Linked DNA regions of Homo sapiens. The protein of the gene in region 1 interacts with the protein of each later gene in a biochemical or structural test. Each region holds a gene or a part of one and is shown in the gene's direction. Other genes may lie near its edges. The genes, in order: NFE2L1, ATF7 and BATF.

What was found.
Region 2: the proteins of NFE2L1 (region 1) and ATF7 interact in a test that uses a peptide from one of them, tested with the Homo sapiens proteins (one large-scale study listed by IntAct).
Region 3: the proteins of NFE2L1 (region 1) and BATF interact in a test that uses a peptide from one of them, tested with the Homo sapiens proteins (one large-scale study listed by IntAct).

The regions. Positions count from the first base shown.
Region 1 is NC_000017.11:48,051,359-48,054,858, forward strand, and holds part of NFE2L1 (endoplasmic reticulum membrane sensor NFE2L1), read left to right. Parts: coding exon 1-270; intron 271-3,500.
Region 2 is NC_000012.12:53,535,742-53,539,464, reverse strand, and holds part of ATF7 (cyclic AMP-dependent transcription factor ATF-7), read left to right. Parts: intron 1-1,124; exon of another isoform or gene 1,125-1,259; intron 1,260-1,912; coding exon 1,913-2,050; intron 2,051-3,723. Other genes in the region: ATF7-NPFF readthrough protein, read left to right, coding at 1,913-2,050. UniProt on the Homo sapiens protein: Stress-responsive chromatin regulator that plays a role in various biological processes including innate immunological memory, adipocyte differentiation or telomerase regulation.
Region 3 is NC_000014.9:75,539,357-75,543,079, forward strand, and holds part of BATF (basic leucine zipper transcriptional factor ATF-like), read left to right. Parts: intron 1-3,723. UniProt on the Homo sapiens protein: AP-1 family transcription factor that controls the differentiation of lineage-specific cells in the immune system: specifically mediates the differentiation of T-helper 17 cells (Th17), follicular T-helper cells (TfH), CD8(+) dendritic cells and class-switch recombination (CSR) in B-cells.

The DNA.
Region 1 (3,500 bases):
CGGCGGCTCCTCAGTCAGGTGAGGGCCCTGGACAGGTTCCAGGTGCCAACCACTGAGGTAAATGCCTGGCTGGTTCACCGAGACCCAGAGGGGTCTGTCTCTGGCAGTCAGCCCAACTCAGGCCTCGCCCTCGAGAGTTCCAGTGGCCTCCAAGATGTGACAGGCCCAGACAACGGGGTGCGAGAAAGCGAAACGGAGCAGGGATTCGGTGAAGATTTGGAGGATTTGGGGGCTGTAGCCCCCCCAGTCAGTGGAGACTTAACCAAAGAGGTTAGTGGACCTGTGGTGGGTGTGTGGGGCCTGGGGCTTGGGGGTGGGCTGGTCCCAAAGGATTGTGGTCAGAACACTGAGCCCTGTAAAGAGCCAGACAGGTTTCAGCAGGGCCTCAGGCACTGTTCTTGGGTAGGGATGGGCTGAACTTTCTGACTTTAGGATTGGGGGCTGGGAGCATTTCCCTGTGTTGAACCATTGACCTACCTCTAAATGTACTGTCAGGGCAGTGGGAGGTTCCTACACATGCCAGGGTGTTTACTGCTTGGATTTCAGCGTGACTGCTGGAGGCCTGGGGTGGGGGAGGAGTCATGTTGTGATGGGCTTTGATGCAGTGTACATCTGTTGCTAAGACACAAATACTTTTTGGACTCTTGTTTTGTACCTCCCCCCACATCAGAACACAGACATACCCTGAAGTTCTCCTTTGTGGCGAGGCCTGTTGTTGTATTGTCCTGATAATTCAGACCTCCTGGGCCTGAGCCAAAGGGTAGATTTGGATAGTTATTCTTGGCCAGGAGAGGGCCAAGGCTTCCAATCTTTGCAAAAGGCCCACTGCAGGGAGTAGGGAAGAGAAGTCTGGGAGCTAGAAAGAGAAACTGCATTCTGCTGCCCAAGTCAACTTGCTTTGAGCTGTCAGAAGAGATCCTTAGCTCTTGTCACATGGCTGACATACTGTTCTGGGCAGAAAGCGATGCAGTTCTTTGCCTTTCAAGATGTGAATGGCTGCTGCTGCCCCTGCCTCACCAACATAAGATTGCTTTGAGCTCTGGGTTTGTATGGCTCTCGCTTGCCATCCAGCCTTAAGTAGCCGGGAAAGAGGCCCACTGCACTCCCCTGGCCATTAGGGAAGGAGAAAGCCCGATTGGGTTTTTGGAGGTGGCATGTGAAGGAATGTAAAAAGTTTTACAGATGTTACAGAAATGGGCTTCTCTGCCTGCCAGGTCAGACCACGTTTTCCCTCCTTCCCTGCTCTGTAGTCTTTTCCTGAGCTTAGTTCTCTGACTGTTAGTGACTGTCAAAGAGTATGGCTTGTTCTAGGCCAGTGGTCCTCAACTGGGGGTGATTTTGTCCCCGAGGGTGCAGGTGGCAATATCGTGAAACAGTTTTGGTTGTCACATCTTGGGGCGGGGTTGCTACTGGCACCTAGTGGGTAGGGGCCAAGGATGCTGGTTAACATCTTGAATGGCACAGAACACCTTCAAACAACAGATTTGTCTGACCCCAAGTGTCAGTAGTGCAGGGATTGAGACACTCGGCTCTGTGCTCAAATGGCTCATACTGGACCTGCTTTGAGAGAGACTAGGATTATCTGAGCGCAGGAGCCAGGAACATTTCTTACCTTTCAGGGCCTGTTAATTTAGCTTCTTACAGGGCCACTTGGAACTTCACCTCTCTTCTGCTTCCCCTTTCCTTCAAGTGGGCTCTAATCTTGGCACAGTGTTCTGAAGTGTGCTTCCCAGTCTCTGCTCTATGCTCCTCCCCCAGGGTAGCTCCCCCAGGGGTGGGTGTAACTGGGTTTGCTCCTGGAAACCCTGCAGGGTAGCTGCATATCTGTTCCTGCTGGGATGGGATGGGATATTTTGGATATTATTGGGTGGGTTGGGGCCGAATGGGATGGGACTTTGACCCTGCTTTCCTCTGTTTCTTGGCCCTCGTGAAGGTTGTGCTTTTCCTCATCTCAGGCCTTTATAACTCCCTTTGGGAGGTGGGGTGGGTCAGCATTAGGGGCCCAGGCTGGGTATGGGGGAAGGGAGGATTATTATGTGTCTAGAACAACATTTCCTCAGCAACTCAGGGATAAAAATACCCAGGTCCAGAGCATGTGACAGGCACTGCTGGAACCGGTATTATCCCTGGGGTGGCAGTACTCCCCCGCTGCCAGGCCTGCTCTATGGACAGCCATAGCCTAGGCTGTTGTCAGGGATAGGATTCCCCTTGAGATTGGCATTCTGCCCAGAGCAGGGGGGTGGCCTGTTTACAGCTCTTTCCAGGCTAGGAGCTGACTGTGACCAGAGAGAACATACTGTCTCTCTGACCTGACCTTAGGCTCCAGGGGAGCAGCAGTGGGGAGGGAGCTAAATTTCCCCTCGAGAAACCAATCCAGGGAGTCTGAATTGTGATACTGAGTCTGTGAGGGGCTTCTTTCCTGCTTGGATGAGATATGGGCCAGGAATCAGGCAGAGAATGCTCTTGAATAAAGCCGGGGTGAAAGGGGAGGGGGGACATTTGTGGCCAGGAGAATGCAGAGCACCTGTCTCCCTAAGTATGGGGCTTCAGGGTTGTGTCTCCCCTCCTCTTGCTTGGGGCTAGGCTTGGCCAGCACTGTGACATTGCTGCACGTGGGCAAAATGGCCTTCCCCTTTTCTCTAGTCTGGCCTATTTTGGGGTGACAAAACTTACGGCTTATGGTGGGCCTGGGTGCCCTGGGTTCCTGCCCAGCCTGGCTCGTGATCCCTGGCCTTGAGAACTGGCCACTGCCTTCCTGAGGAATGGGATAACTCTTTCCACTTCCAGCAAATAATTTAGATTCCCAGAGAATCTGCGGGAGAAGTGTCTGCCCAGTCCTGAGTGGGCTGGATGAGCAAGATGCGACAGGAGGGAGGAGAGTGGCACCCCTTCCCCCAGGGCTCTCACTGCGCCACCCCAGCTGACTGACTGGGCTGGGTGGGGCTGCCCGCCCCTGGGCGCATCTCCTCAAGGAGACGGAGGCGGCCCAGGGATGGGCTGGTTCCTTGCGGCAGCTTCTCCAGCTGCCCTGATGCAGAGATTGGCTCCCGTCTGCAGCTAGGTAACAGGCGGTGGGAGGGGATTGGCTCCTTCCGCATCTCCAGCGGAGACTTGGGGGAGGAGATTGGCTCTCGGCGCAGCCTAGGTAACGACAGTGGGAGGGGATTGGCTCTTTGCGCAGCCCAGCTGCTGACCTGGGGGAGGGGATTGGCTCTCTGCAGCCTCAGCAGTGACCTGCGGGGTGGGAGGGGGTGGGGATTGGCTCCCTGCTGCAGCCTAGGTAACAAGTTTGGGGGGCGTGGGGGGGAGGAGCGGGAGGATAGGCCCAGGAGGGAGCTTGCTTTCCTCTGCAGCTTGAGCACGGAGCATGGGGTGGGAGTCCCATCTCACTGCAGCCTCTGCGGTGAGCTCAGGGTGGGGGCAGCTGGGCGCCTGAGTGGAACTGGGGTTGTGAGGTGGGAGGGGGCTGCTCAAGGATGGAGGAAGGGGGCTGGCTGGGC
Region 2 (3,723 bases), on another chromosome or scaffold:
ACCTCGAATTCCCAAAGTGCTGAGATTACAGGCATGAGCCACCACACCTGTCCAAGAAAGGGTTTTGCTATTTGCACAGGCTGGTCTAGAATTTCGGGCCTCAGGTGATCCTCCCACCTTGGCCTCCCAAAGTGTTGAGATTACAGGCATGAGCCACCACACTTGGCCTATGAGGGATTTTATACCCAATTTATTATAGGCAAATTCAAGAAAATTAGCTTCCCATAAAAAGCTTCAAGTCTTTTTCATTGCCATTTTAGCTCAGTTGACACTTCTGGGAGACTAGTTTATAGTCAGCCCTTTCCTCACTGGGCATTCCTTGGTGTATCCTCCTGCCTGTACAGGAGTGGTCTTTACTTCCCCTTAATGAGAAGTACAGGCTCAGTGGAAGAGTCTCCAGAAGTGTTTAATGAGTGTGGAACTTTGCTGAACCGCAGCTTTGCTAGGAGATGCCCTAGAGGATTTCAAATCTATGGTTGTATTTACTTAGAGGCTTCTCCTTCCCACTAGTCTCTGACTTAAGAGATCTCAGAATTAGCTAAATTGGACCTGACATCTTAGCTATGTAGAAAAAATGAGGCAGAAATGAAGCTACTTTTGCTGTTGCTCACCCTCCTCAGATTGGGGAAAATGAACCACTACTACCTTCTCTAATGTAGTAGATATCACATTATCTTTAATTTACTCAGCTAGCTATCAAGAAGGTTTCTAAGGGTTAGGGTAGCAAGGGAAGATCTTGAAACAAGCAGTTGCTTCACCAAGAAGCCTGGGATACAGGATAGATAGAACAAAGGATCCACTTTGTTATGAAACTGAACTGCAATGCCAACCCTCCTATCCTGGTTCAGTGTCAAGGCCATTATCTCAGATGGTTTATTGTTCCCTGCAAGGCCGTTTACAGCTCCACAGTTCTGTGAGGTGATTGCATCACTGCCAGGAAAGTGCTCTCTTTCCTTTCTGGTTTTCTCCAGTCTTGCTCCTAAGACCAAGTTGTCATTTATTTCACCAATCAGATGATCAGCCTTTCTTTTCTGTTACCCCAAACCCCTTGTCTACCTGATACATCCAGCACCATATTTTGGGGTGAGATCACCATCAAGCATGGTGAGTTCCCCAGAAAATACCTTTCCTATCTGGTTTGCAGTACTTGAATAGCCAGTTTGTCTTTGTTTGCTTTTGGTAATTGGGTAATCCTTGTTGGCAGAGAAAGTGTTCACAGCTCTCCAGTGGCCAGCAGATTCAGGAATTATTTTGATTTCCTGAAAAATATTATCATAATATTTGCATGGATTTAAATGGCATCTTTTTTTTCAGGTCTTTATAAATATTTGTTTACCATTGGTGAAGCAGGTATTATCTTCATCTTATAGTTGGGGAAACAGAAGCCCTGAGAATTACCGACAAAATGATTTGGCCAGAATTGTACATAAAACATAAGGGGCCCATATTTCTTGGCCGGATGCAGTGGCTCATTCCTGTAATCCCAACACTTTGGGAGGCTGAGGCAGGTGAATCACCTGAGGTCGGGAGTTCGAGATCAGCCTGACCAACATGGAGAAACCCCATCTCTATTAAAAATAAAAAATTAGCTGGGCGTGGTGGCACATGCCTATAATCCCAGCTACTTGGGAGGCTGAGGCGGGAGAATCTCTTGAACTTGGGAGGTGGAAGTTGCAGTGAGACGAGATCACACCATTGCACTCTAGCCTGGGCAACAAGATTGAAACTACGCCTCAAAATACAAAACAAATCAAACATAAGGGGCCCACATTTATTTGACATGCAGTTCAGTGCATTGTATAAGAGCAGAACTTCTTAGAAGCATATTCCCTTATCTTGGAAATGGGAAAATATAGATTCAACCTGAAAGGAATCATAGGGTTAAACTCTGTTCATTTTTCTTTCACAACAGGCTGCTGCTGGGCCCCTTGACATGTCTCTGCCTTCCACACCAGACATCAAAATCAAAGAAGAAGAGCCAGTGGAGGTAGACTCATCCCCACCTGATAGCCCTGCCTCTAGTCCCTGTTCCCCACCACTGAAGGAGAAGGTAAATTCTCTACCAAGGATCATCTCAAATGTTAATTGATAAAGTTTTGATTCATTAATTATATAAATAGTATGTCCTAACTACTCAGGAGGCCAAGATGGGAGAATCACTTGAGCCCAGAAATTCAAGACCAGCCTGGGCAACATGGAGAAACCCCATCTCCACTTAAAATACAAAAATTACCTGGGCGTGGTGGAGCATGCCTGTAGTTCCAGCTACTTGAGAGTATGAGGTGGAGGATCACTTAAGCCCTAGAGGTCGAGGCTGCAGTGAGCTGTGATTGCTCCACTGCACCCCAGCCTGGGCAACAGAGTGAGACTGTCTCAAGAAAAAAAAAAGTATGTATTATAGGAGGACCGATTGTATTTAAAGGAATATTTAGAAGATTTATATAAATTATACCTATTCTCCTTCCCAGCAATTTCACTTATAAGTCTATATGGAAGAGAAATTAGTGCATATGTCTACCAAAAGAAGTATGTTAGAATGTTCATAGCAATTGTATTCTTTTGTTGTTGTTGTTGTTGTTGAGACAGTCTCACTCTGTCACCCAGGCTGGAGTGCAATGGCGTGATCTTGGCTCACTGCAACCTCTGCCTCCCAGGTTTGAGCGATTCTCCTGCCTCAGCCTCCCAAGTAGCTGGGACTACAGGTGCGTGCCACCACGCCCGGCTAATTTTTGTACTTTTAGTAGAGATGGGGTTTCACCACATTTGTCAGGCTGGTCTCGATCTCCTGACCTCAGGCGATCTGCCCGCCTCGGCCTCCCAAAGTGCTAGGGTTACAGGATTGAGCCACCGCGCCCGGCCAGCAATTGTATTCTTAATAGCCAAAAATCAGTCAGGCACGGTGGCTCATGCCTGTAATCCCAGCACTTTGGGAGGCCGAGGTGGTGGAATCACTTGAGGCCAGGAGTTCAAGACCAGCCTGGCCAACATAGTGAAACCCCATCTCTACCAAAAATACAAAAATTAGCTGGATGTGGTGGTGTGTGCCTATAATCCCAGCTACTCGGGAGGCTGAGATAGGAGAATTGCTTGAACCCAGGAGGCCAGGGTTTCAGTGAGCCAAGATTGCACCATTGCACTCCAGCCTGAGCGACAGAGCAAAACTCCGTCTCAAAAAAAAAAAAAAAGTGAACTAATAATTACACAGCAATGTGAGTGAATCCCACAAACATATCCAACAACAACAAAAAAGTCATACACAAAAGTACATACTTATAAAATTCAAGAAGAGGCAAAACTGTTTGACAATGATAGAACTCAGGATAGCATTTACCTCCTGTGAAGGAATGGTGTGGATTGGAAAGGGACATAGAACTTTCTGGGGTGCTGGAAATGGTCTGTATCCTGATTTTACATCTGTAACAAGTCATCTTTTTTTTTTTTTCTTTTGAGAGAAAGTCTTGCTCTGATGCCCAGGCTGGAGTGCAGTGGTGCAATCTCAGCTCACTGCAACGTCTGCCTCCCAGGCTCAAGCAATTCTCTTGCTTCAGCCTCCCAAAGTGCTGCGATTACAGACGTGAGCACCGCACCCAGCCTAAAAGTCATTTTGTTGTTATGACTTTAATGCACATCACTGTATGTTATACTTCAATTAATAAGTGAGAAAGAAAAATTCACATAATTCATAAATTGGACATCTAACAGTTTCGAAAAAATGTCATCCTA
Region 3 (3,723 bases), on another chromosome or scaffold:
GCTTACGTATCTTTGGTCAGAATTCTGTCACATGGCTACCCCTAGCTACAAGGTAAGGTAAGCTGGAATTTTTTTTTTTTTTTTTTTTTTTTTTTAGCAATTCTTTTCCCAGTCTTTCTAGAGGAAGGCAAGGCAGAAGGGGTTTGGGATGGACGCTGAATGAACCAAACTATAGTTTTTTTCACATTTGAGGGCAATGAAATCATAGTCTTGAAAACCAAGGACCAGGCGATAGCCTTTTCACCCTGTGACTAGACAGGTCCCTGAGGGCACGGCTGATGTGGCCAATCTTCTGTAAATGCAAAGGTGCTTATGGCCCTAGAGCTTCAGCTCTAAGACATGAAAGTGAAGGTTCCTCCAGAATCACACACGTGCATTATTCAGCGCAAAGATCTGTGGTTTGGTGATTCTTCTTCTCCTTTCATAAGGTGAGAGGCAGCAGTTGGGGTGAATTTCCCCAGGAATGGTGGGAGATGTGGGCCTAGATCCTCCCGCTGCTTGGGAAGAGTCGTACTTTTCAGTTGGAAGCCTGCTCCAGGAATGGCGGGCTCCACCCTCTGCATGTGACGTACAGGGGCTGGTAACTGATGGAGCCTGAACATATATCTGGGTGTGAGGGATAAGCTTCGAACGCCACTTAAGTGTAGGTGGGAGCCAAAAGGTCACCCTGCCAATACATGATTACATGTCCTGTTGAGGAGAAAATACACAGGGACTATTTTCACCCTTCTGGAAATTGTGATTAGAAAATGCAAGGAGAAGGCCAAGACACTAAACTGGAGCTGGTAGGGAGGAAGCCTCAGCCCTGCTCAGGGTGCCTGGACAGTCCCCACCAGGGCCCAGCTAGGAAATGCCAGCCTTGTCCTTGGTCTTCGTCCCTAATGGCTCCCGGCGGGTGAGGGAACTGCCTGGGGATTCCCCATCGTTGAAGCGCTCTGTGAGTGACCCCCTCCTAAGCCCCTCCAGTAGGGGATTTCCCAGAATGTTCCCACGCCCCCAGGAAGCCTCTTCCTTAGCCACCCCCAAGCTGCTTGCGGTTCATGGTAGAGGTAGGTGGCATCAAATGACCCCACAGGTGAGGGATTTGCCTGAGGTGGGAAAAGAGGGAAGATAAAATTGGAAAGCCACCGGGGCTGAGGAATTATCTCATAGGAGAGAACTGTCAAACAGTATAACGTTTAAACAGACTTTAAAGGCAAGAAAGGATGGAGGGCACAGACTCTGAAGCCAGAGTGCCTCAATTCAAGTACCGGTGCTGCAACTTCCAAGCTGCGTGATCTTGAGCCAGTGACTTAACTTCTCTGTTCCTCTGTTTTTCCTCTTCTGTAAAACGGAGATAATATTTTCTACCACACAAGTTTGTTGAAAATATCAAATGTAATGATAACCATAAAATACTTAAAAGAGTGATTGGCACACGGAAGTATTCAATAAATGTTAGTTATTGGCCAGGCATGGATGATTCACGCCTGAAATCCCAGAACTTTGGGAGGCTGAGGCAGGCGGATCACTTGCGGTCAGAAGTTCAAAACCAGCCTGGCCAACATGGTGAAACCCCGTCTCTACTAGAAATACAAAAAGTTAGCCAAGTGTATTGGCGGGCACCTGTAACCCCAGCTACCCAGAAGGCTGAGGTGGGGAGAATTGCTTGAACCAGGGAGGCAGAGGTTGCGGTGAGCTGAGATTGCACCACTGCACTCCCAGTCTGGGCAACAGAGAGAGACTCTGTCTCAAAAATTAAATAAACAAATAAATGATAGTTAAGTTAACCTAGGCTATTTTTTTAAAAAAATTTTGGTTTCTATCCACCTTTTTCGTATAAATTGAGCCAGGTTACACCTTAGACCTATTAGATCAGAATCAGGCATCAGGATTGCTAAAGCTCCCCAGGGGACCCCAGTGTGTGGATGAGGTTGAGAATCATTGTTTTGGTCCAGTCTTTCCATTTTAAAGTGAGGCAACTGGAGCTGAATAGGGAAATCGAGTCACTGAGGATCACCCAGCCAGGACCAGGGCCCAAGTTCCTATTCCCATTTACCGCTGATGGAGCTCACCGTGGTCATGAGTTCAGGACCTGGCTCTGTGTCTGGAGGAAGGTCTGGCCTCGAGTCAGCCCTTGTCCAGAATATCTGGCCAGGTGACCCCCTCTCCATGCAGCCCAGGAGGCAGATGGTCAGCTCTATGATTGGAAGAATGTGAGTGACTCAGGGATCTTGTGTTGTGTTGTGTTGTGTGTGGGTCACCAAAACCGAGACCCAGCTTTCTCCTGGGAGACAACAGGGTAGCCAAGGACTTATTTTTTTGTTTTGTTTTGTTTTGTTTTTTGAGACAGAGTCTTGCTGGGTTGCCCAGGCTGAACTACAATGGTAAAATCTTGGCTCACTGCAACTTCTGCCTCCCAGGTTCAAGTGATTCTCCTGCCTCAGCCTCCGGAGTTGCTGGGACTACAGGCATGCGCCACCACGCCCGGCTAATTTTTGTATTTTTTGTAGAGACAGGGCTTCACCATGCTGGCCAGGCTGGTCTTGAATTCCTGACCTCAAGTGATCTGCCCACCTCAGCCTCCCAAAGTGCTGGGATTACAGGCGTGAGCCACAGCACCTGGCCAACTTTCTAGTGTTCTCGGGAGACCTTTGCCCACTCAAGTCTCCAGTCTCTCGGGGGAAGCAGTCAGTGTGAGAGAAGGAACACAGGGCCCCGAGCCAAGCCCTGCTCTGCGCCTCCCTCGCGGGCAATGAGTCTTTGCATCAAACACTCAAAGTTTCTGAACTTCTGAGAAAACAAGTGCCTTGAGGTGAATCCTATAGCACAGCTGTCACCAGCCTGTGGTCATTTTGGAGGGTATGTGGCATAGGTTTGTCCCAGGGTCTCAGTTGTCCTCATCTGTAGAGTGGGGATAATAACAGCTGACCTTCCCTATCCCACACAGAGCGTTATTGTGAGGAGTCTGATGGACCTGGATGAATTCTGAATAGGAGAAAGATGGGTACATGGATGCCCAAATGCAGGCTCACCCCCACCCCTCTCAGTAGCAGAAGACATGCATATGGGAGAAGCTGCATTTCCTCCCAGCCTCACTGTGCTCTAGGTGTCCAGCCCTCATTGTTAGGGGATGTCACTGTTGTACCTCTGGATAAACAGCTGCTCTCATGCCACCTTTGCCAGTTGTCCCTTCAGCTGGGCGAGCCCTTTCCAGGGCATGACTGCCCCAAGGAGGGCCAGAGGGGACTGGGCAATAGCAGGGACATGGAGGGACGAGGCCCCAGATCAGCCACTTCCTCCTGCAAGGGAAGTCAAACCCTTTCTCTCATAAGTGTCAGGCTGGCTGCACGGTCCCTGGGCTGGCAGGGCAGGTTTCTTGGGGGCCCTAGCAGGAAGCACTCTTGCTTCCCAAGGTAAAGACAAGTTTCTTATCACTGGCGGTGGTTTTCTGGTTAGAGGCAGCAGGCAGCGGTTACAAACTTTGCCTAGAGCTCTGGGATCTGCAAGCCAGGGAGGGGGAGGCAGACGACAGAGCTAGAGTGAGCTCAGCAGAGCTTGCTTAGGGAGGAAGGACCCGCTGTCACTTCCCGAAAGCTGGGCCAGCCTCTAGGCGGGGAGAAGGTCAGAGTGGCCCTCCCTTCTGCCTCGGGGTTTGCCCAGGCTCTTCAGAGCACAGAATTTACAGTAAATGTTGTCACCAGTGGAAACTCTCAGAGGGGGCGAAGAAAAGGGCTAGAGGAA